Linked DNA regions of Homo sapiens. The protein of the gene in region 3 purifies or fractionates together with the protein of the main gene of each other region. This does not show direct contact. Each region holds a gene or a part of one and is shown on either strand. Other genes may lie near its edges.

The links.
Region 1: the proteins of SPTLC1 (region 3) and NSRP1 purify together in Homo sapiens (affinity purification with mass spectrometry; one large-scale study listed by BioGRID and IntAct). This does not show direct contact.
Region 2: the proteins of SPTLC1 (region 3) and COPB1 purify together in Homo sapiens (affinity purification with mass spectrometry; one large-scale study listed by BioGRID and IntAct). This does not show direct contact.
Region 4: the proteins of SPTLC1 (region 3) and COPB2 purify together in Homo sapiens (affinity purification with mass spectrometry; one large-scale study listed by BioGRID and IntAct). This does not show direct contact.
Region 5: the proteins of SPTLC1 (region 3) and ORMDL1 purify together in Homo sapiens (affinity purification with mass spectrometry; one large-scale study listed by BioGRID and IntAct). This does not show direct contact.
Region 6: the proteins of SPTLC1 (region 3) and ARCN1 purify together in Homo sapiens (affinity purification with mass spectrometry; one large-scale study listed by BioGRID and IntAct). This does not show direct contact.
Region 7: the proteins of SPTLC1 (region 3) and MON2 purify together in Homo sapiens (affinity purification with mass spectrometry; one large-scale study listed by BioGRID and IntAct). This does not show direct contact.

Annotation. Positions count from the first base shown.
Region 1 is NC_000017.11:30,123,316-30,126,815, reverse strand, and holds part of NSRP1 (nuclear speckle splicing regulatory protein 1), read right to left. Parts: intron 1-3,500. UniProt on the Homo sapiens protein: RNA-binding protein that mediates pre-mRNA alternative splicing regulation.
Region 2 is NC_000011.10:14,479,312-14,482,811, forward strand, and holds part of COPB1 (coatomer subunit beta), read right to left. Parts: intron 1,787-3,500; coding exon 1,679-1,786; intron 1,595-1,678; coding exon 1,448-1,594; intron 404-1,447; coding exon 258-403; intron 1-257. UniProt on the Homo sapiens protein: The coatomer is a cytosolic protein complex that binds to dilysine motifs and reversibly associates with Golgi non-clathrin-coated vesicles, which further mediate biosynthetic protein transport from the ER, via the Golgi up to the trans Golgi network.
Region 3 is NC_000009.12:92,052,914-92,056,413, forward strand, and holds part of SPTLC1 (serine palmitoyltransferase 1), read right to left. Parts: intron 2,582-3,500; coding exon 2,492-2,581; intron 1-2,491. UniProt on the Homo sapiens protein: Component of the serine palmitoyltransferase multisubunit enzyme (SPT) that catalyzes the initial and rate-limiting step in sphingolipid biosynthesis by condensing L-serine and activated acyl-CoA (most commonly palmitoyl-CoA) to form long-chain bases.
Region 4 is NC_000003.12:139,372,648-139,376,147, forward strand, and holds part of COPB2 (coatomer subunit beta'), read right to left. Parts: intron 2,968-3,500; coding exon 2,821-2,967; intron 1,942-2,820; coding exon 1,842-1,941; intron 1,162-1,841; coding exon 1,019-1,161; intron 766-1,018; coding exon 566-765; intron 1-565. UniProt on the Homo sapiens protein: The coatomer is a cytosolic protein complex that binds to dilysine motifs and reversibly associates with Golgi non-clathrin-coated vesicles, which further mediate biosynthetic protein transport from the ER, via the Golgi up to the trans Golgi network.
Region 5 is NC_000002.12:189,774,340-189,777,839, forward strand, and holds part of ORMDL1 (ORM1-like protein 1), read right to left. Parts: intron 1,378-3,500; coding exon 1,226-1,377; intron 1-1,225. UniProt on the Homo sapiens protein: Plays an essential role in the homeostatic regulation of sphingolipid de novo biosynthesis by modulating the activity of the serine palmitoyltransferase (SPT) in response to ceramide levels.
Region 6 is NC_000011.10:118,585,909-118,589,408, forward strand, and holds part of ARCN1 (coatomer subunit delta), read left to right. Parts: intron 1-3,500. UniProt on the Homo sapiens protein: Component of the coatomer, a cytosolic protein complex that binds to dilysine motifs and reversibly associates with Golgi non-clathrin-coated vesicles, which further mediate biosynthetic protein transport from the ER, via the Golgi up to the trans Golgi network.
Region 7 is NC_000012.12:62,536,326-62,539,825, reverse strand, and holds part of MON2 (protein MON2 homolog), read right to left. Parts: intron 2,676-3,500; coding exon 2,563-2,675; intron 2,225-2,562; coding exon 2,120-2,224; intron 1,731-2,119; coding exon 1,650-1,730; intron 1,575-1,649; coding exon 1,501-1,574; intron 1,412-1,500; coding exon 1,321-1,411; intron 1-1,320. UniProt on the Homo sapiens protein: Plays a role in regulating membrane trafficking of cargo proteins. Together with ATP9A and DOP1B, regulates SNX3 retromer-mediated endosomal sorting of WLS away from lysosomal degradation.

The DNA.
Region 1 (3,500 bases), on a different chromosome or scaffold from region 3:
AGAGCTTGAGACCCGCCTGGGCAACATGGCGAAACCCTGTCTCTACAAAAAAATACAAAAATGAGCCGAGAGTGGTGTCTCGCACCGGTGGTCCCAGCTACTCAGGAGGCGGAGGCTAAAAGATTGCTCAGGCTGGGAAGCGGAGGTTGCAGTGACCCAAAATCGCACCACTGCACTCCAGCCTGGGCAATAGAACAAGACTCTGTTTCAAAAAATAAATACGAAGCTAGGCTAGATGGCCAGATCCTAACTCATAGAGCTCATACTTTATCTAGTACAGTGACAAGACATGTATGTAAACAACTTATAATGCAAGCTTTTAAAAGCTAAGTGCAATAAGAAAGGTAAAGAGTGTAAGAAAAAGGAAGAGATTCTTTCCAGTGAGGAAAATCAAAGAAGGTATCTTGAAAGAAGTAGCTTTTGCGCTGGGTTTTGAAGGATGGCTATAATTTGGACATTAAAAAAATGGGGAGAAGACTTCCAGTGTAAAGAAAAGCAGAGCTGTGAAAAACTGCAAGCACGACAGTGTACTTTTTATGGAGGAACAGTTAGGAGAAAATGCTAGTAAGCATTCTAGGGGCAAAGCATAGAGAAGGTTTTCAAAGTCAAGATTAGCACTTTAGATTTTAAATATAATTACGTTCAGGACTGAGGATCAGTGATTATAACTGTGCTTTAGGAAGATCAATCTGACAATATCATAAATAATTTGAGAAGACAGATAATAAGGAAACTAGTTATGAAACAATTAAAATAATCCAACAGAAAAGAATGAACATGGTGACAGTGAGACCGGAAAATTATGACAGCAAAACCACTCACTTATGAATTGATAGCAGCATCAGAATATGCTTTCTTACTCATATGGTGTAAAAACTTTCACCACCCCCCCAACCATCTCTCCCACCTTGAACAAAATGATAATTATTTCTAACTTATTCTGACAATTTGAAAAAGAGGATCTACTAGGCCACGCATGGTGGCTCACGCCTGCAATCACAGCACTTTGGGAGGCTGAGGCAGGCAGATCCCTTGAGGCCAGGAGTTCAAGACCAGCCTGGCCAACATGGCAAAACCCCATCTCTACAAAAAATACAAAAATTAGCTGGGCCTGGTGGCGAACGCCTGTGATCCCAGCTACTTGGGAGGCTGAGGCACAAGAACTGCTTTAACTTGGGAGGTGGAGGCTGCAGTGACCCGAGATGCCGCCACTGCACTCCAGCCTGGATGACAGAGCTAGACTCTGTCTCAAAAAAGAAAGGAGGAACTGCTTAAATTATAATTAAAAGGGATAGACTACCACTTTCCCACTAAACTAACCCTGGATGCAAGCACAAAATGAAAACAATTCATGTGCTAGGGCTCCCTCTGCTGGACCACTAGAGAAAAAATCTGATCTTAAATGCTGCTGAATTGATAAAAAGAACAGATAAATTGGCTTCATAGCAGCTCCTTTCCAGGTGTATCAAATGCTTTCCTCAGGAGGGGAATAAGAAATTATCTTTCTTCTATATTTTCCACAGCACTAATAATTTAATTGTTGCTTAAATTGTTGACTAATTATGAAAGAGATTTTAATATATAGTCAAATCACACAAATTTTTTTTTAATCTTTTTTTTTGAGACGGAGTCTCGTTCTGTCACCCAGGCTGGAGTGCAGTGGCTTGATATCAGCTCACTCAACCTCTGCCTCCAGGGTTCAAGTGATTTTCCTGCCTCAGCCTGAGTAGCTGGGATTACAGGTGCCCACCACCATGTCCAGCTAATTTTTGTATTTTTAGTAGAGATGGTGTTTCACCATATTGGCCAGGCTGGTCTTGAACTACTGACCTCAAGTGATCTGCCCACCTCAGCCTCCCAAAGTGCTGGGATTATAGGCCTGAGCCACCATGACTGGCCAAATCTCACAAATATTTAAATATACTCAATAAATTTACTTCTCAGTAAAAAGACAAGCTGGAATTAACCAGACTGATTTTTTTATAGGTAAGGAAATTATTCTAAGGAATGGTTTTATATTCCGTTCACTAAGAAATAAGCTGCAGCTCCCTTGTCCATTGGCTTTGACCGGAAGGTAGGAGAACCTTTCTCTCTAAGACTGAATCTCCCAAATGTTTCTGCTCCTTCTGGACAAGCCCAGTTCCCACCAGGTAACTCTGGTCCCCAGCCTCCAAGAACCATCTCCTACTTGTATCCCTCTATATATCACTACTTGCTTCTTACTGCTGCTAATCTCTCGACTGCCTCATCATGCCCTTTTTGGCATCTCAAGTCTTCCATCACCTATGTTAACAATTCTCTGTATTAAAGTCCCACTACAGGAAGGAGGAAAAGAGGAAGAGCAGGAGGGAAGGAGAAAGCTAGCACAAAATGGCCCAGGCCTATCTTTGCTGACTCTAGTGTACCCACTGGCTAGCTAACACCAGCCTCATTTCACAATGGAAAAGAAACAGCAGTAACATCAAAAAACTCTCTAGATTACTTGTGTAAACCCATCCTTCTCAAACTGTGGTATGTTGTGGTCATTTCATATCGCTTTTTCTTTTTATTTTAGAGACAGGATCTCCCTCTGTTGCCCAGGCTGGAGTGCAGTAGCACAATCCTAGCTCACTGCAACCTCAAACCTGGGCTCAAGCAATTCTCCCCACCTGAGCCTTCCAAGTACCTAACATTACCAGTGCGTGCCACCACACTTTTTTTTTTTTTATAGAGACGGGGTCTCGCTGTTGCCCAGGCTGGACTTGAACTCCTAGCCTCAAGCGATTCTCCCACCTCAGCCTCCGAAAGTGCATGAGGGTACAGGCATGAGTTATCATGCCTGGCCATGATGCTTTGTGTTACACAGTATACCAGGGTGCTTTAATGTGAAATGCAAGATAAGCATGTCCAATCCTTCTGTTGTATCCATAGTAAGTGATTTTTATAATTATTTGTATATTAAACCACAAGGGTGCTAGAAAATTTAATGGTAAATAGACGATGGACGATTTAATGGTAAACAGTCTTCAACAAAAGGTGCTGGGACAACTGGATATCCATATGCAAATGAATGAAGTTGAACCCCCTCTCTCTTATTATTAAAAAAAAAAAATTTCAAAATGTATGAAAGACCTAAACTCAAGGACTAAAACAACAAAATTCTTAGAAGAAAACATAGTGGAAATCTTTGTGACCTCGGATTAGGCAATGGTTTCTTAGGTAGGACACTAAAGCACCAGCAACAGCAGCAAAAAATGTATTTCCTCAAAACAACTTTTGTGCTTCGAAGGATATTTTCAAGAAAAGTGAACAGACAACCCACAGAACAGGAGAATATACTTACAAACCATATATCTAATAAGATACTAAAGGAACTCTTACAATCCATAATAAAATGACAACCCAATTTAAAAAGAGGTAAAGCCGGGCACGGTGGCTCATGCCTGTAATCCCAGCACTTTGGAAGGCTGAGGCAGGCAGATCACAAGGTCAGGAGTTCGAGACCAGCCTGGCCAACATAG
Region 2 (3,500 bases), on a different chromosome or scaffold from region 3:
TTAGTTACTTTAAGATTCACAATGTTTTAGAGAAAATCAGAATAGAGACCCTGAGCTAAATCACTCCTAAAAAAATTATTTTGGGCCATTTATTATAGACTAAATGAGAGTGGAGTTAGCGAGATGCTTGTTGTACAAACTTGTCTTATTTTGGCTTGATTGTCCTCTCCATTCTATTTTCTATCAACTGACCCTTTAAAGATAAAAACTGATAAAATGCTTACTTGACCTTACATTTAAATGTATTTTAAACCTACTTGACAGATTTAATAGCATGAAAGACTTCAAGCATCTTCTCAACAATAAGCATTCTCAGGTTATCAAAGCGCTGAATGGCTTCACGAACAAACTCCAAGACATCAGCAGCTGCTGCTTCGTTGTTGTCACTGAGAAATTCCATTAACTAAAAGAAAAAAAAAAAAAAGAAAATGGAACTAACAATTTTCGAAAAGAAAATTATCTAGGACAAGAAATAAATTAAAAGAATGTAATTCTTTTTTTGTTTTCTAAGAGACAGGGTCTTGCTTTGCTGCCCAGGCTAGAGAATAGTGGCACAATCATAGCTCACTGCAGCCTTGAACTCTTGGGCTCAAGTGATCCTCTGGCAGCCTCAGCCTCCCCAGGAGCTAGGACTTCAGGCATGACACTATGCCTAGCTAATATTAATTTTTTTGTAGAGACAGGGTCTCCCTATATTGCCCTGGCTGGTCTTGAATCCCTGGCCTCAAGTAATCCTCTTGCCTAGCCCTCCCAAAGTGCTCGAATTACAGACATGAAGTGCCATGCCTGACCCTTGTAATTCTTAATAATTTTCAAATACACAACAAAATGTAAATTGAGAGACAAGTACTATTATGTAAACAAAGTCACAATGGCTTTTCCATTTTATGTGCAGCAAAATTTATTTTAAAATTCACTATAAAAGATAAGCTAGAGATCCAAAACTCCAAATAAATAAATGAATTCGATCCTCCTAAATTGTAACTAAAATCATTTTAGAGAGAACTCAAGAGCTCAAAGGCAAAAATCAAATTATAATAACATACCTCACTTATCTGACAGTGACAGCAAAATATTCTACATATGTGAATTTTTCCTATAACTGATTCCTTTAAGAGCTAAAGCTATTTAAAATAAATACCTATTTGCCTTACTGAATAATATATATACACAGCATAATTTTACTTTAGGTAACTGTATCATCAATTAAAATAATATGCAAAGCTTTTTTTTGGTCACTGTTTTTGTTTTTTTGATGAATATATAAGTGAAAGAAGTCAGTCCTCACCCTTCTGAGTTTAAAGGTAGAGGTAGATATAAAGATCACTTCTCACCATGAGATTTAATGGTTCTAGGCAGCTGAGATTTCTGGAGTTTGTCAAATAACTATATTTTTTAAAAAATTCTTTTAGATAATTTCAAAATTAAAGTCATCAGAATTACATACCACAGGAATAACATTTGCAGCCATATCTGGAAATCGGACAGAACAGGAATGCAATGTTCGCACTAGGAGTTGTCTGTATTTGTCAGTATCTTCATGCTCAGACACATTATTTGTTTTTATCACTTCCTTCTTCAGGACAATAACCAGCTTATAGAATGAAGTAAAAATAAGTGAGAGTTACATCATATTTGGGCCTGATAGCTACAAAGTGCTGTCAGAGTTTCCTTTTACCTCTTCAACATTTCTAGAAGAGACAAGATCCAGTGCTAACTGCAGAGTTTTCTTTCGTACTTCTAAGTCTGGTGTGCTCAATACTCTTAGGATATCCATAACCAGATCCTAAAAAAGAAGAAAAAATCAAGAATTAACACCAATCTTTCTGGTCACAGGAAAAAAATCTTCACTGCAGAATGGTGGGGTTTATCTATCATCACTTTAATTCTTTAATCAATAACAAAACCACTAGTGGTGGAAGAACTAGATAGTTTGGGTCTCCTGATACACTGCAATATGAAATAATAGCACATGACACATTCAAACTGATAATGTTTACTTTGACTCTGTCAAGCTAAAGCTAAAGCTCCAACTTACAGTTTATAGAAAGTAACAGAAGTCAAAGAACAAGCTAAACAACGTAAGAAAGTAGCCATACACATCCAGAAAGAGGGGCATTTTATAGTATTACTGGTCTGGTCTCTTCAACAAATCAGTGTCATAAAAAAAAGATACTGTCCAAAATTAAGAGACTGAAAGGGCATAACCACCAAATACGATACATGGTCACAAAATGGGCAAACTAAACAAAAAGGGCTTTTGGGATAACTGGGAAAATCTACATATAGACTTGGTATTAGATAACATTCATAAATTATTAACAATTTCGTTAAATGTGATATTATTTGACTCCATAGGAAAATGTAACATTTAAAAGATGCACACTTAAAAACAATTCGAAACTGATAAAAAAGTTCTAAGAGTGAACTCCTGTATATCCTTCACCTACATTCACCAGTTAATATCTTCCCACATTTGCTCTTTTCTTTTTTTTGAGATGGAGTCTTGCTCTGTCACCCAGGCTGGAGTGCAGTGGCAAGATCTTGGCTCACTGCAACCTCTGCCTCCTGGGTTCAAGCAATTCTCCTGTCTCAGCCTCCTGAGTAGCTGGGACTACAGTTGCACACCACCATGTCCAGCTAATTTTTGTATTTTAATGGAGACAGGGAGGGTTTCACCATATTTGTCAGGGTGGTCTCGAACTCCTGACCTCAGGTGATCCACCTGCCTCAGCCTCCCAAAGTGCTGCGATTTTAGGCATGAGCCACCACACCTGGCCCACATTTGCTCTTTACTGCTGATAATTTTAGTGTATCTCTCTCAAGGGTAAGGATAATTTCTTATATAACCACATTATAATTATCAGAGAATTTAACACTGATCAATACTATTAACTAATATACACACCATATTCATATTTCTCAATCTGTCCCAATAATGTCCTTCATAGAAATTTGTTGTTGCTGTTGTTCTGATCCAAGATCAGCACTGCATTTACCTGCCATGGGGTTTTATTTTTATAACCATTATTATTCTCATGGATTAAACAAATATGGTGATAATTTTCTAGAATCAGATCACCTTTTATTCTCAATTGGTATAATAATTTTCCACGAAATGTAAATTATATTCAAATTAAAATGAGTATGTCACTGTCGCTAAGAATAGTCAATACAGTACAAACCGAAAAGATAAAAAAATATAATACTGATTCACTTTAGAAAAACATTTTTTTTTTTTGAGACAGAGTCTCACTCTGTTGCCCAGGCTGGAGTGCAGTGGCACGATCTCAGCTCACTGCAACCTCTGCCTCCTGGGTTCAAGTGATTCTCCTGCCTCAGCCTCCCAAGTAGTTGGGATTACAGGCGCACTTCACCACACCCAGCTAATTTTTGTTATTTTTAGTATAGACAGGGTTTTACCATGTTGGCCAGGCTGGTCTCAAACTCCTGACCTCAGATGATGTGCCCGCCTCTGCCTCCCAAAGTGCTGGGATTAC
Region 3 (3,500 bases):
AAAACTGTGTGTCAAAGGACAGTATCAAATAAATGAAACAAACCCCCACAAAATAGGAGAAAATATTTGCAAATCATGTATCTGATAAACATCTAGTATCCAGAATATACAAGGAATTCTTTTAAAAACAAAAAAACAACCCAATTTAAAAAATGGGCAAAGCACCTGAATAGATATGTCTCCAAAGGTATACGCATGGCCAAACAAACAAACAAACAAAAAAAAAAACAAGAAAAGAGGCTCAGCATCATTAGCCATTTGGGGGAAACAGGATCAAAACCACAGTGAGATACTACCTCATGCTCACTAGGGTGGCTAAAACAAACCAACAAAAAACCCTGGAAAATATAAGTGCTGACAAAGATGTAGAGAAACTGTAACCCTGGTATATAGCTGATAGGAATGTAAAATGGTGCAATCGCTGTTGAAAACAGTATGTCAGTTCCTTATTAAGTTAAACACAGAATTACCATATAATCCAGCAATTACCCTGCTAGATATATACATAAAAGAACTGAAAACAGGAATTCAAACAAATACCTGTACACAAATGTTCACAACAGCACTATTTGCAATAGCAAAAAGGTAGAAAGAACCCAAATATCCATCTGTGGATGAACATATAAAACAAAACGTGGTATTATCCATGCAATGGACTATAACTCAGCATTAAAAAGGTATGAAATACTGATACATGGTATACAATGTTAATGAACTTTAAAAACATCAAGTGAATGAAGCCAGAAAGAAAAGGTCATATATTATATGATGCCATTTATAGGAAATAACCAGAAAAGGTAAATCCATAGAGACAGAAAGCAGATTGGTAGTTGCTGGGAGCTAGAGGGAGAAGAAAATGGGGAGTGACTGTTTAATGGGTTTGAGGTCTTCTTCGTGAGTCATGAAAAGGTTTTTGACCTAAAGTTGATGGTTGCACACATGGTAAATGTAATAAATGTCACTGTCCTGTACAATTTAAATTGGTTAATTTTGTGTTATGTGAATTTCACCTCAATAAAGGAAATCTCAATGGTCATGGTTTCTAAAAACAGTTATGCTGCTTTCACTATTAAAAAGCTAAGTTTTGGCCATGCGTGGTGGCTCACGCCTGTAATCTCAGCACTTTGGGAGGCCAAGGAGGGTGGATCACCTGAGGTTGGGAGTTCAAGACCAGCCTGACCAACATGAAGAAACCTTGTCTCTACTAAAAATACAAAATTAGCCGGGCATGGTGGCACATGCTTGTAATCCCAGCTACCTGGGAGGCTGAGGCAGGAGAATCACTTGAACCCAGGAGCCAGAGGTTGCGGTGAGCCGAGATCGTGCCATTGCACTCCAGCCTGGGCAACATAAGTGAAACTCCATCTCAAACAAAAAACAAAACACAAAAAAACAAAAAAGCAAGCTATGCTTTCATTCATATGCAATTCTACAAAAGGTAAAACTAATCTACAGGAATAGAAAGTAGATTAATGGCTGTCTGGGGCCAACATGGGTACTCACTACCAAGAGGCATCAGGAAGCTTTCTGGATAAAGTTTTCTTTCTGGATAAACATTGTCTTACATAAAAATATTCCGTATCTTGACTGTGGTGGTGGATGGCTGCAGTGATACAGATGTATATACATCTGTCAAAACTTATCAAACTTTACCCTTAAAGTAGGTGTATTTTATACGTTGATTTCACCTAAATAAAGCTGGATCTTAAAAGCTACGTATGGCCGACTCAGTGGCTCATGCCTGTAATCCCAGCATTTTGGGAGGCCCAGGCGGGCAGATCATGAGGTCAAGAGATTGAGACCATCCTAGCCGACATGGTGAAACCCCGTCTCTACTAAAAATACAAAAATTAGCTGGGGGTGTCTGCGCACGCCTATAGTTCCAGCTACTCGGGAGGCTGAGGCAGGAGAACTGCTTGAACCTCGGGGAGGAGGTTGCAGTGAGCCAAGATGGCGCCACTGCACTCCAGCCTGACGACAGGGCAAGACTGTCTTGCGGGGGAGAAAAAAAAAGCTAAAGCTAAGTTTTGGCCAGGTGTGGTGGCTCATACCTGTAATACCAGCACTTTGGCAGGCTGAGGCAGGAGGATCGCTTGAGCCCAAGAGTTTGAGAACAGCCTGGGTAACGCAGTGAGACCCCTACTCCACAAAAAAGGGAAAAATCAGCCAGGTGTGGTGGCATGTGCCTGTAGTCCCAGCTAACTCAGAAAGCTAAGGTGGAAGGATCACTTGAGCCCAGGAGGGTAAGGCTGCAGTGAGCTGTGTTCACACCACTGCACTCCAGCCTGGGCAACAGAGCAGTCTTGATTACTCTTTGAAGGCCAGCACTGGCATTCAGTGTTGTTCTTCTTCCCTGATCTGAGCAAAATATGCTTATGAGGCCTAATGCGCAAAGCAACGCAGACGTTATACACTAAAAGCGGTCATAAACAAAAGGCACATCTGTCAAATAGTCCAAATATTAAAATTACAGCTGAACATGGTTGCTTACCAATTCTGGAAGAGGACAAATAGTTCCAGTATTCATATACAATCCTTCTACTACAATGAAACGCCGAGTTACACGAGCCTTGCGAGGATTCTTTAAAAGAGAAAAAGCAGACATCTTACATTTCAGTAACTCTGAAGACAAGATCTGTTACATATTCCCCAGCACTTTCACCTTACAAGATTTATTCCTAAAAAAATATTCTGAATGAATTGAAAGCTCAGTGTTTGTGATGGGTTATTTTGAGATGAACAACAGTACTATCTTCTCTCAGACGTTTTTCAGCTCACAGCATTAGCTAGGTGACCCGCCACACACACAAACTAATTAGGCCCTCTGAGAATATTAAAACACAAACAAAACCCTCCAAACCTCCAACTGGGAAGGGGCCTAAGGGACTTTCTAAAGAAATGGGAATGTTTTACATCATAATGGGGCTGACATTCCTGGGTTACATGGGTATAATCACTGGTCAAAATTGTATGGCTGCATTCATGTGATTCAATGTCTGTCAATTTTACCCAAAACAACTATAATGAAGGTCATCATCATGAAGATGGGGTGAGGAACAGATGGCACAAGAATGATGTAATGCTGATAACAAAGCTGGGAGAAGGGTACAGGGGGCTTCACTATACCACTGTGTTTCCTTCTTATATGTTGGCATTTTTCCATAACAAAAAGTTAAAAAACTCAAACCGTTTTCCTTCACCTCCCAAAAAAAGGGGCAACCCTGTTCCCTCCTCACTCCCCACTGATGTATTATCGGATCAAGTAAAATTTGACTATGAGCTTGTCCAATGATGTTCCCAGGTGGTGGGGTAGAGAGGTCTCCTTTTCTTTTTTTTGAGATGGAGTCTCACTGTCACCCAGGTGGGAGTGCAGTGGCGCCATCTCTGCTCGCTGCAACCTCCGCCTCCAGGGTTCAAGCAATTCTCTGCCTCAGCCTCCCGAGTAGCTGGGATTACAGGCACCCGCCACCACGCTCAGCTGATTTTTGTATTTTTAGTAG
Region 4 (3,500 bases), on a different chromosome or scaffold from region 3:
TGTAAAATAATTTTAAAGCTCCACAGGTTTAGACTTCACTGTGCTAGAAACTCCTCTCTCACAAGATGTTTGGTGACTTACAAATCTTAAGGGAGAAATTCAACTGACAGTTCGAATTACAAATAAGAAACAGAATTATTATCAATCCCAAAACTTTTTCAAAAGACACATATCTCAGAGTCAGGTTTTCTTCTTGAAAGAGCAATGAGTCAGCAAGCATTTAGAGAGGGCACCTACTAAGTCTCAGCATAAGACATACTCCTTGCCCTCAAAGGAGCACACAAAAACACAAACTCAATGCATGCGAAATAACAGGAAACTACTATTTAACTATTCAAAATTGTGTGGTATAGAACAAGTCCAGATGGGAAACATGCTCCATCTTTTGTGCCAACTTGATCAAGTGGCATGGCTGACTGCAGCTGTGTTGAGGATTGTGAGGCCAGGGCAAAAGCACATTGAGGAATGATTAGAGATGCCAACCACAGGGCAAGAGTGGACTGTGGATCTGCAAACCTGTTCTAACATACACAGAAGCTGAGGGACAATTTTGGTGATGGCTTACCGCCCATTAGGATTGTGCTGAATAGTCTGAGGGTATATTTCACAACTGCCCATATCCTTTACTGCCAGTGGCAATCTTTCACCATCTTTAATTTCAGCATCTCCCATTGCTTTTAGGTTGGCCTGCTGGACTTCTGAATGCTTGGCCCAAATTATCTTTCCATTGGCATCCATGGACATGGCAGGTTCCTCCCGACCAAGCTGAAAGAAAGAAAAATAGCTCTCAGCAATGAAAAGGAAAATGAATAAAACCAAAACAAAACAGATTATTTTTTTCACCTAACAGAGAGCTCCATTTCCTTTCTTCCACTTTAAATCTTCATTGCTTAATGTCTAGTGCTTAATGAAAGAAGTGCCAGTTTTATAAAACTGGTTACTTGGAAGATGACAGTACTAAAATACAAAGAAAATGGTTTTGCCTATGTCCACCTACTGAGAGGGATAGTATAATTACCTTAACAATGATGCTCCCTTCATCATAGCCCAAAGCGACATTGTTTGACCCTCTTAGACTGGCCACGCACCATACCCTCTCCATTCCATAATTCAGTGTGCTCTCAAGCCGGTAGGTGCTTGAATGCCAAATACGTACTGTTCCTAAAAAGAACAATGTAAATACTCCCTTTTGATACAAACATCCGACAATAAACTGTGTCAGGTGAAAGAGACCCATAGAAGTCTTTCTATTCAAACAGATAACACTTCCTGGCAGCTTAATGACCAATTTTTTGACCTACTGTCTTTAAATGATTTTTAAAAGCAACATAAACATAACACATAACATATAAGAAACAAAAACTAAGAATTACGATTTTAAACATGAAATAATAACAGGATTTCCTGGGTAAAGTGTTTCCTATGTGCCAGATGCTTTCTACCCACAATTTCTTCTCACTATAATTTTATGAAGCAGATATATATGTTTCCATTTCATAATTTGCCCAAACACACATTCATGACATAACAGAGCCTGATTTTGAACCCAGGTTTGTTTGACTCCAAAGCACATGCTTTTTCAGTTTCTCTTTAGGACAGCTGACGGTCCTCTTATTTAAGTGACAGAATCAAAATACATGAGAATGATGACGATGATGATGATGATGATGATGATGATGATGAAAATAATGCCCCTTTACTCTTTTATAGCTTAAGTCTGGTACTTTAATAAAAATATCAAAATCCTTGGAAACCTACAATTATAATGCAGAGACATTACTTGCTTTAAATGCCCACTGAGTAGTTACTAGCACAGGAATAAACATACCCTTCTAACTTACCATCTTCTGAACCTGTGATAATGATTGGCAACTCAGGATGAAAGCTGGCACAAGACACATTTTGGGCATGTCCTTCCAGTGTCTGCACACATGTTTTATTCTGTAATTAAGACATAGAAAACATGTTTTATTAATGAAAAACATGTAACCAGCCCGCCCTTAATTTTCTCAGTGTACAGATACATTATAAATGATAGTAGTCATGAAAATCTAAATAATATCCAATATAGAAATTTTTGAAATAGGATGATCTTGTTGTATATATGAATATTTTATCTAATTACTTTGTAAAATAAATGTAAATGTAACTATCACATTTAAAGAAGGGGAAAAAAACCCAAGAAGGCTTTTGTCTGAATATTATTCCCCCAAATTCTCAGGATAATAGATTTCCCCCTTAAAACTCACACCTACCATCACTGGCTAAGTAGACAGTGCTGCTTTAGCCTTTAATATTTTTATTCTGGATTTAAGTACAAATCTGAAAATGTTTCAAGGAAAAACTGACTTTCTAGACCTCATTTTATTAATTGCTTATGGGAACTTTTGATGTGGAAAACAAAAATATCAAAATATAAGAAAATCTTAGAGATAGGAAGCATGTTAACAAGAATTCATAACTAGGTTTACAAGAGTACGATTTGGCAAAATGGTTGGTAATTGTTGATCTGCTAGCTTACAAAAATGAATAGAAGTCTATCAATGAAGATTATGGAGGATAATTCAACATTAAAATGTTAAAATTTCTAAATGCAATTATGAAATGAAATATGAACATGTTGGTATTTTATTTTTAAAATCTTGATATGCATTGTTTTCATTTTTATGGAGAATTCTGGGAACACAGTTTAGGTGCAAATACTGATACCTTAAGTTATTATGCTGTGAACAGTTTTCAACAACCCAAGTCTTAACTGTCCTATAAGAAATAGTAAGAAACATATCTAACATATGGAAGTAAGGTTATGAAAAACTGTACCTGATAATCCCATATTTTAACAAGACGGTCATCTGCACCTGAAATGAGGTATGGCTTGTCCCCACCACTGTAGTAATCAATGCAATTCACGCCTTTCTCATGTCCTTCCAAAGTGAAGTTTGGTGACGAAGAGCCCAACTGCCACACCTGCAGAGAGAAACAGCATCGGCCAGTCAATATGGGGCCTTGCTTTACAAAAGGCAAATCCACCATATTTCTGACACATTATGTAAAATGCCAAAGCCCAGGAGAGAAGAGCTATCAAATTTTATTTTTTATCCTGTTTGGTTTTTGTTCTTTCTCATTTTACTTGAATTTTCAGGGAGCAAAATCACTATGGCGTTCTTTAAAAGAAGTGCCAATTTCCAGGCTTTATCTCTAGAGATTATAAGTCAGTCAATCCACAGTGACGCCCAGGAATCTAGATGTTATGAAATTATTTTATTATAGATTTAATATACAGCTCATGAAAGTAGATTTAGTAAGATATATTAAAAGTTGCTGGGTGTGGTGGCTCACACCTGTAATCCCAGCACTTTAGGAGGCCGAGATGGAAGTTATCACTTGAGCCCAAGAGCTCAAGACCAACCTGGACAACACAGCAAGACCTTGTCTCTACAAAAAAGTAAAAAGTAAAAAATTAGCTGGGCATGAAGGCACACGCATGTAGTCCTAACAAC
Region 5 (3,500 bases), on a different chromosome or scaffold from region 3:
ATTATATGGGACTAAATCAATTCAAAATTTCCTCAAAGGGCTATAAATTAAGGAAAAAGAACCCCATTATTTTATGATCAGTTTATTCCTTTCACTTTAAAAATGCCTTCCCTTACTTAAATATCTAAAACCTAGTCTCTCTTAAGTTCTAACATAAGGATTTCCAACACCTCCAAGAAGTCTTTTGTGCTATGCCAGGCTGCACTGACTCTATCATGGACATTATTATGTATAGGCTAGATGGTACAGAGTATTAAGATATATGAGCAATACCTCTATTATGTGTAGGCCACTGTACTTACTGTGGGATTCAAAGCAATCCATGCACTTATAAATTCTTTGGAGAGACAAAATAAAACATATATACATTTTTTTATTTGTCAATTATACCTCAGTAAAGCTGGGGAAAAAAGGAGGAGGCATTTCAGGTAGGAGATATGATTTGAACTGATTTGAACAAAGACAGAAATAGGACTACACATGAAATATTCAAGAAATGCTGCTTAGAAGGCCAGGTAGGAGTTGGGTGGGGATAAAATATTTACATCAAGGGAAAAGGAGGTAAGAACTATTTTCTGGAAGGCCCAGAACATCAGATAGGAGAAAGAAATTAGATACCAGATACAGGTTACATGCTATCCAGGTAGATTATTATCTCATTTATTTCTTACAGCATTAGGATTGAATTAGGTATCACTAGCTAGAATTTTATATATGAGCAAACCAAGCTGGCTGAGTGATATATATAGGACTCCACCCAGGTCTATCCTATAATGAAAGCCTGACCTACTTTTTTCGAAACCATACTCTTTCCCAAGGAGTCTGAATATCTTAATAGGATAGGTGGCCAGTGAAATTCTTCTCATTATCTAAATCATTGCTTAAGGAGATTAATCTGACAGTGCAATATAGAATATGATTATGTATTTTGTGTCCTTATATGAAACCTAAGGACGGGAGCTGGAATACATTTGACCTGTATATCCTAAATGTCTAGGTGCACTGATTAGCATGTAATATTGTCTCCGTATATGTACTGACTGAAGTGAAAATTAGTTTATTATCAACTTGTTAAAAATTTTGTCTATATTTTATGTTCTATCCGAGGTGCTACTTATTGATAGAAGTTTGCAACAAAATATGTTTCTAATTCCAATTCAATCTGATGAAAAGATATCTTCCTCTTATCCAATCCTCCTCATACCTAAAAATTTCTGCCACTTACAGAATTATTGGAGAAATTGTGAAAAACTTCCGTGAAGATGTAAACTGTACTCCATAGTCCAGTTGTTCCCAATGAGTTAGGAGCCTTGCTTTACCCTGGTCAGGAGTTTCGAAAGGTGTTCCTTTCACTGCATGCAAAAATACGTACATCCCCTGGAAAACAAGCAAGGGGTTATAAATGATCAATATTAAATACAAAATTAGTCTTTGTCAGTAGCATTAACGAGGTTCCAAGCTGTTTGTGAGAGTGTGTGATTTAACTGAGTTCGTTTTAAGCTTTCATATAATAGTGAAAGGCTGTAGCCAGTTTCTTTATAATAAAATAGAACTTTCTGGGGTATAAAAATATTAAGTGAGAATTGGTAAAAGGTCAACTGAAAGTAACCTGTTTGCATTTCTATTCGTTAAACTAAAAATAATTATCAGGGTAGCTTCATATCTTTACATTCAGATTTTCTTACACTTTTCCTATTAGGAAATAGGATTACTTTTTCCCCAATGTACAGGAGGTTTTTCTTCAGGGTATATTAGTAAATTTGATGATACTTAAAAAATGATAAAGACATACAAAGTGGTAGAAAACAATAAAATGATTAAAATCTATTGGGAAAAATAGTTTTGAGATATTTAATATGATGACTGCCTTTGCCTTAATAGTTCTCTTCCAAAGCAATAAAAATAGTTTGATATAATAGGTATAATGTTCCACTCAATTCCCTTTTTAAATCGCTATTGTGCCTCAATAGCATTTCTTCTGAAGTCAGTTTTAAAAACTCAAAGCAAATAACATTACTAAAAGCCATTCTGTCAGATCATATGTCTAAACATATAATTTTTTTTATCAATAGGGTAGAAAAAAACCAATCTATAGATTTGGTTTCCTTGAGATTATGATACCCATTTAGACTCATAGGCAGTGTTTCATTCAGGATCACTGCTTGAGGCACTTTATGTAAAGGGATAATGCCTAAATATTATCATGACACAAAGTTTTTCCTTCTAGACGCCACAATGTGATGTCATTTTTCCTACCTCTACTTTTAATGATTATATAGAAAAATTAGGGATTTGAAATTTTATATGATACCAACTTAACCAAGCCCTTCCTTTCAAGGCTTAGTCTACTTCCTAGTTATTCCAGTAGGCAATTCAGAAGTCGTTTAGCTACAATAACACGTAAGCTATGGAGGAAAGGACTCATGTTCAATTGGATTTAACCCATCAAACATTTAATAGGTGGCTTATATGTACAAGACATAGGACATATATGCACATATGAAATTGAATGAGATGTACCCAAGCCTTGGAAAAATTCAATCCTCCAAGAGATGATAAGGAAAAAAAATGCATAAACAGCTAGAAAGTAGGGCAGAAATTGCTATCAAAGGTACAATCAGAATACTCAGCAAATGGCAGGGGAGGGAAAGGTTCCTTGTTGCTGTGCCAAAAGTCTTGATGCTACTTCATTACCTCATTCTTAAAGGTTCAGCTCAAATAACAATTCCTTAGAAAAACCTACCTCATTAGTAATAATTAATCTCCTCTTTATGTAGTTGTATACAATTTTATTGAAAATACGATTACAGTACAATATATCATGTTAGAGTTGTTTGCATGATGTTTGTTTTCCCATTAGCCTGAATACACTCGGAATAAGCACTGGGACACCGCAAGACATTAGACATTGGACACTTCCAACATTAGAAATGTTGGAAGATGACATTACGCCAAGGAGTATTTATTCTGTAAGCTCTACGAAACCATTTTCATATGGACTTTAAAGTGAATTATAAAACAGAAAGTATATGTTTTCAAATCATCGGGGGTATAGGACCCCCAAAAAGTTAAGAACATCTATTCCAGACCACATAGATATTAGAATATAAGAGAATAATCATCCTCTCATTATTTCCTTCAAACCATATGTACTTAACTAGTGTTTAGAATATCAAAACAGTTTATTTTATACATCTTTTCAGTGAAAAATAATAAAATCTTATCTGGCCATATATCTACTGCCCCAATATTTTTTAAATTGTTTTTATGTAAAAATGTTTGTGATTATTATTCCTCCATTAAAAGAATTAGAGAACAAAAGTATGTAGCTCATGCTTAGTCCTTACTAAATACCTACTGAATCAAAATGAATCATTCATTTTTAAAGCTGGGCCAAGAATCCTGTGAAGCATTAATACCTCTAAGGGTGAGGTAGCACTTAATAAAGCAACCACTGTAGGTTTCTACTGTACGGTTCAGAAAGGCAAATATACTGTATT
Region 6 (3,500 bases), on a different chromosome or scaffold from region 3:
TACTGGTTGGTGACATTTTTAAGTGGTAGTTATCAAGTTCACATATTCGTGACTCAGATTTCTCGTCTTGAAGCCAGACCTTCTACTGTTGCTGATGGTTTTGAGGTCAAGTGAAAGATAATACCAGGAGGATACCTTTATCAGGTGTGCATAAAAGAGGAGTATTTACTCTTTTTCTTTCTTCTTTCCTTTCTTTCTTCCTTTCTTTCTTTCTTGACAGAGTCTTGCTCTGTCTCCCAGACTGGAGTGCAATGGCACGATCTTGCAACCTCCACCTCCCGGGGTCAAGCAATTCTCCTGCCTCAGCCTCCCAAGTGGCTGGGATTACAGGTGCACGCCATCACACCCGGCTAATTTTCTTATTTTTAGTAGAGACAGAGTTTTGCCGTGTTGGCCAGGTGGGTCTCGAACTCCTGACCTCAAGTGATCTGCCTGCCTCTGCCTCCCAAAAGTGCTTGGATTATAGGCGTGAGCCACCGTGCCCAGCCAAGTATTTACTCTTTATATGCCCTGTTCTGTATGAAATGAACAGGGTTACATTGGGATAAATTTCTTGATTCACTAAAGCCGCTGTGCTCTTCCTAGTGGTTGCTTTGAGTGAGACAGAGGCTTCACACTTTTAAAAAGATATTCCTGAGTGCAGTGGCCCACACCTGTAATCTTAGCACTTTGGGAGGCTGAGGTGGGCGGATTGCCTGAGCTCAGGAGTTCAAGACCACCCTGGGCAACATGGTGAAACTCCATCTCCACTAAAATACAAAAAATTAACCCCTTCTCCACTAAAATACAAAAAATTAGATGGGCGTGGTGGCACACACCTGTAGTCCCAGCTACTCAGGAGGCTGAGGCAGGAGAATTGCTTGAACCCGGGAAGCAGAGGTTGCAGTGAGCCAAGATGGTGCCACTGCACTCCAGCCTGGGCGACAGAGTGAGACTCTATCTCCAAAAAAAAAAAAAAAAAAAAAATGTTGGAGATCATCACATATTAAAGAGAATTTGAGACACTGTTTTTTTCTAAATGATAAATTGCCTCTTGAGCACAGAGCAAACTTTTGTGAAGGTAAAATGGTACCATGCATTGTCTTAAGATGCACTCCTTTATGGTCTTGACTCTGATGCCTTTGTTTCTAGGAAGACCTAAGAGGTTGGAACAAAGAACATGGTAGGATAACAAAATATTTTTTGTAGCCTCTGTAGTTCATCCAGCCAAACGTATGTCTATTACTGAATATGAATAGATTGTACTTAATACTTGCCTCTAGCAGCAGCAGTTTTTAATCTTTTAAAAATTGGATTATACATTCATATAGTACAAAATTCAAAAGTTGTTAACAGTCAGAAGTCTTCCTCTCACTCAGCCATGCCAGTTTCTCATTTTGGAGACAACTAGTATTAACAGAGTTTTTTGTGTATCCTTCTAAGGGGGATGGTCTGTGATATACAGATGAATAAAAAACATGTATACAGTGTGTCTATTTTTCCCCCTTTTATGCAAAGCAGTAAAACTAGACACGTCTTCCAATTGCATTTTTCATTTAATTATTTTGGAGATAAGAATCTCCTTATTTGAAACTGCAGAGATATGACATCTAAATGCGCAATACCTTACCCTAGACTGGATCCTCTACTAATGTAGTGTAGAAAAAACAACTCAAACTGTTTGTTTTTTCTATTTTCTCATTCAACAGCAACAATGAACACAGAAGACTTCTGTGATCAAGTGTGTTTAGATTTTTCCGCACACATCAAGCGGTCACACCTAGCTGGTGTCCTCCAATTCAATTCAATTCTGATGCTATCTACCTGGGAATAGCCTCAGATTCTACAGGTTGAGAGTTCAGTCCCCCAAGACTGATTCTTCCTTCCCACCAGTCATAAGTCCAGACTTTCAGAACTTCTTACTGACCTCAAGTTTGGCCTCCCACGACCCCCTCTGGGGTGTTCAATTAATCTGCTAGAGCACCTCACAGAACTCAGGGAAACTTACTTGACATTTATCAGTTTGTTACAGAGGACATTTTAAAGGATGCAAATAAGCAGCCAGATGAAGAGATACATAGGGCAAGGTCTGGGAGGGTCTTGAGCACAGGAGCTTCTGTCCCCAGGGAGCTGGGGTACGCCACCCTCCTGGAAAATAGATGAGACCTTGTTCATCTTCCTGTAAGCCTGCATGTGTTCAGCTGTCCAGAAGCTTCCCAGACCCTGTCCTCTTGAGCCTTTTATGGAGACTTCATTGGATAGGCATGATTGACAGGCATGCAGAAATGTGACTGGGCAAGGGTATGACCTAATACTGATAGGCTGAGTGGGGAAACACAGCAAGGCCTGTCCAAATTCTTGGCCTCTCTGTGCAGCATTAATCTTCCTCCAGGATATGGTGCAGGACCCCTTTTGGAGATCCTGCCTTGGGCTGGTGAAAGGAGGGCAGGAGAAGGTCAAAGAGAGGTTCTTTTTTCTAAGGGCTGCTCCTGAGGCCTAAAGTGCCCCAACATTATGTATAATAAGGGATATGGGAGTTATGAGCTAGGAACCATGGATGAAAACCGGTATGTATGTATATCATAATATCACAACTACTATTAAAAATATTATTAGGTCAACTGACGAAATTGACATATGGTTGACAGATCGGATACAATTATTGTATCATTGTTAGCCTGGCATGATGGCACATGGCTGTAGTCCTTCCTACTCAGGAGGCTGAGGCAGGAGGATCACTTGAGACCAGGAGTTCAAGGTTATAGTGAACTGTGATTGTGTCTCTGAATAGCCACTGCACTCCAGCCTGGGCAACATAGCAAGATCTGTCTCTTAAACAACAACAACAGGCTGGGTGCGGTGGCTCACGCCTGTAATCCCAACACTTCGGGAGGCCGAGGCAGGCAGATCACCTGAGGTCAGGAGTTCAAGACCAGCCTGGCCAGCATGGTAAAACTCTGACTCTAGTAAAAATACAAAAATGAACCGGGCGTGGTGGCAGGTGCCTGAAATCCCAGCTACGCAGGAGGCTGAGACAGGAGAATCACTTGAACCCGGGAGGCAGAGGTTGCAGTGAGCCGAGATCACGCCATTGCACTCCAGCCTGGGCAAGAAGAGTGAAACTCTATCTCAAAACAACAACAACAAAAAGCTAAAAAAACTATCAGTGTAAATTTGTGAAGTTAATAATGGTACTGTGATTGATTATGTAAGAGAATATCCCTAATCTTATAAAATAAGCACTGAAGTATTTAGGGGTAAAGTGCCGTGTTGTATATAATCTGCTTCTTAATGGTTCAGGGAAAAAAAATCAAATGTATAACATACATATATAATGTTTAGAGAGAGAGAAACACAAGTGCAAATTATAAAACAAATGAGGTAAATATTAACAATAGGTGAATCTGGAAAAGGGTATATATGTCTTCCTTGTATAATTTTAATTTTTTTAAGCTTGAAAATACTTACAAATAGAAAGTTTTTTCAGTTGTTTGTTTTCTCACCATTGCCTACTATTCATT
Region 7 (3,500 bases), on a different chromosome or scaffold from region 3:
AGGCTGGTCTCGAACTCCTGACCACAAGTGATCTGCCTGCCTCGGCCTCCTGCAGTGCTGGGATTACAGGCGTAAGCCACCATGCCCAGCCATAATACATACTTTCAAACACCTGCATGTTTATATAATTATCTAGCTAGGTACTATAATATATGAAACTATGCTCTAATGAGACTTTCTTCACCAATCTTTAAATGAGTCATAAGAGCCAAGATAACAAGCCACAGTACCCAAAATTACACTTAAGGACTAGGCAGATGGCCGGGCGCGGTGGCTCATGCCTGTAATCCCAGCACTTTGGGAGGCTGAGGCGGGCGGATCACAAGGTCAGGAGATCGACACCATCCTGGCTAACACAGTGAAACCTTGTCTCTACTGAAAATACAATAAAAAAATTAGCCGGGCGTGGTGGCGGGCACCTGTAGTCCCAGCTACTTGGGAGGCTGAGGCAGGAGAATGGCATGAACCTGGGAGGCAGAGCAGTGACCCGAGATTGCGCCACTGCACTCTAGCCTGGGCGACAAGGCGAGACTCCGTTTCAAAAAAAAAAAAAGACTAGGCAGACAACATAATTTTGAATGCTACAGTTACATGTTATAGCTTTAAATTATATAAATTTTAGCTTTTAAATCATATTTTGGGTTATTTTCACTTATTTGTAAATAGTCAAACTATATTTATTGATTTTAAAATGTGGAAAGTATTTTGTTTAATTATTTCTAACATATAAATAAATACAACTGTTCCTGTGCTTTCCAAGTATAACAGAAAGTGATATTTTTAGTAGTATAGAAAGAAATGTTCTTGAATGTTAATATTCAAAAGTACCGTTTTATTCATTTAATCAATGAACAAATAAAAATTTAAATTTTCAAGATAAGGAGAATCATTACCTTTAGAAAGAAATGATTAGCTCCTTACTTTCCATCCCAATGAAAGCAAAGGAAACTGAGACAAACATTCTTTAATTTAAATCTTATATTACCCCAATCATAAATTGTAATTACAAGTATTATCATGACATTTTATATAACCTATAAAACTGTATTATATTATTTTATAAAAATATTTTTAAAATGTTCAGTATATAAGAGAAATGAACACAACTTAAAATCATATGACATATTTAGACATATCACAAGCCAAATCATGTCCTTTTTACTCCTTCGACAAATAACGATAAGTGGTAAAAACCCAACAGAGTATGGTTACCATACAATCTGAGTGTTAGTTCTACTAGTAAAACACTAAGATCATAATGGATGTACATCTTATATAACTAATGTATCATATCTAAAACAGAAAGGTAGAATATCACACCTTATTATTTCCATAGGCCATATCCATTGCTTCTAGAGACAAGGAGCAAAGTGCATTTATTAAATGATGCAGTGATACATCATCAAGATACCTAAAAAGGAAATGAAGAAATAAGACATCTTGATCTAAAATATATAACAAATAACAATGTTTTTATCAATTAAAAAAACTGACTCTTACTGTGAGCTTTCAAACAATCTTGAAAGTATATTGGAAATCACTGGTAAATCTGTCATCACTGCTGTTGTTAGAACCTGAGAAGAATAAAATTAAATGTAATATATGACACTTTGGGATGCACTAATTGGGTAAGAAAGACTAGAGCTTACTGTACTGGGTCCTTCTACAGCTCTCCCAGGTTTCAAGGCACCGCCACTACTAGGCTTTAATCCCAGAATCCACACAAGATGCTGTAAAATTAAAAAAAAATCAAAACAAATAACTTTACAAAAGTATAAAAGGTCCAATAACTAAAATTAAAATCAGTAGTAACTTCTAGCAACCAAAATTAAAATCAGTAGTAGGTTTTTAAAACCTAAAACTAAAATCACTAATTAACATTCATATAAAATAATTAATGATATCGAACATATGCAGCAGAGCTTAGGCCATTATGAGAAGCATTCCACCACTTCCTACAATATGAGTCACATCTTTTTCCCTTTCTAACTTCTCTTTTTTCATACTTACTATCTATTTTTTAGGCCTGTCCAAAACATCAAAATACATTGCTTAGTCTAACTGTTAGCAATTATATATAAAAACAACACTAATCTCTGACCTAGACACTTTTACATACCTGAAGAGTTGCCAAGACAAGTTGCCATGATGTTCCAAGAACAGCCCCATGGCAATGCGCCAAGTTAAGTAAAGTCCTCATACACTGGATATTTTTGGAAGTCAGCTATATTTTAAAAAGGATACATTTTCAATAATTGTTATGTATTCTTAAAAATTAAAAGCTTATAAAGTAGCATTAATGTGTTAAAAGATTTTTTTAAAGAAAAAATTAAGAAAAAGATTTGGAAGGTTTTATAAGGAACAATTCATTTGATTAAAAGTTGTATTATCATATTGGTTACAGTAATGTCAACTGCATAAACTAGTTTCTTCTAGTTTAAGAAAGTAGTTCTAGTAAAAGAAAGTAAATAAATGTATGACACATTTTGGCAAACACAAAGATAGGTACAACAAGTTTCCTTGATAGCTAATTGATAACCAAGAAAAATACAAGTACATTACCATTACTGTCCCTTGAGGCTGGACTGCTAAAGGTTGACCCACTGCCACAACTTGTTGGTGAGATTCACTTGATGGACTTATCATCATAACACTTTGGCCCTGAACGGAATATGCTAGAACACAAAGGAAAGCCTAAATAATTAAAATATATTTTTATATTGCATTTAAAGTAATGTTATATTTAAAGTTTGATTAAACCAAGTTTAGCCATACACTTATTTAAATATCAGTAATACCTAATATCTGTATCAAAACATTTAAAAAACTCATGAGGGGCTGGGCACAGTGGCTCACACCTGTAATCCCAGCCATTTTGGGAGGCTGAGGCAGGCAGATCATTTGAGGTCAGGAGTTCAAGGCCAGCCTGGCCAACATGGTGAAGTCCTGACTCTTCTAAAAATACAAAAATTAGCCAGGTATGTCGATGCACTTCTGTAGTCTCAGCTACTCAGGAGGCTGAGGCAGGAGAATTGCTTGAATTCAGGAGGCGGTGGTTGCAGTGAGCCAAGATCTGGGTCACTGCACTCTAGGCTGAGCGACAGAGTGACTCTGTCTCAAAAAAAAAAAAACAAAAAAACACAAAAACTTCATGAGGTACAAAAACCAAGACAAGTTAAGCAAATATTAAGTAATTTTCTATACAACATAAAATTATATAACTTTGGTAGATTTCTTCATAAGCAATACAGAACTCGAACACATTCTAAGTATTTTAAACATGTATCCCTGGTATGTTTTTTAATTTAGAGAGCAATACATTTTCAGTTTGAAAACTGAGTATTAGCATGTAATAACAACTACTTGGGAGGCTGAGGCCGGACTGCTTTAGCCCAGTTCAAGATCAGCCTGGGCAATATAGCGAGATCCTGTCTCATTAAAAAAGTATAAACAAAAAAACCCTAAATATTACACTGAAATTTATATTACATGTAACAAAC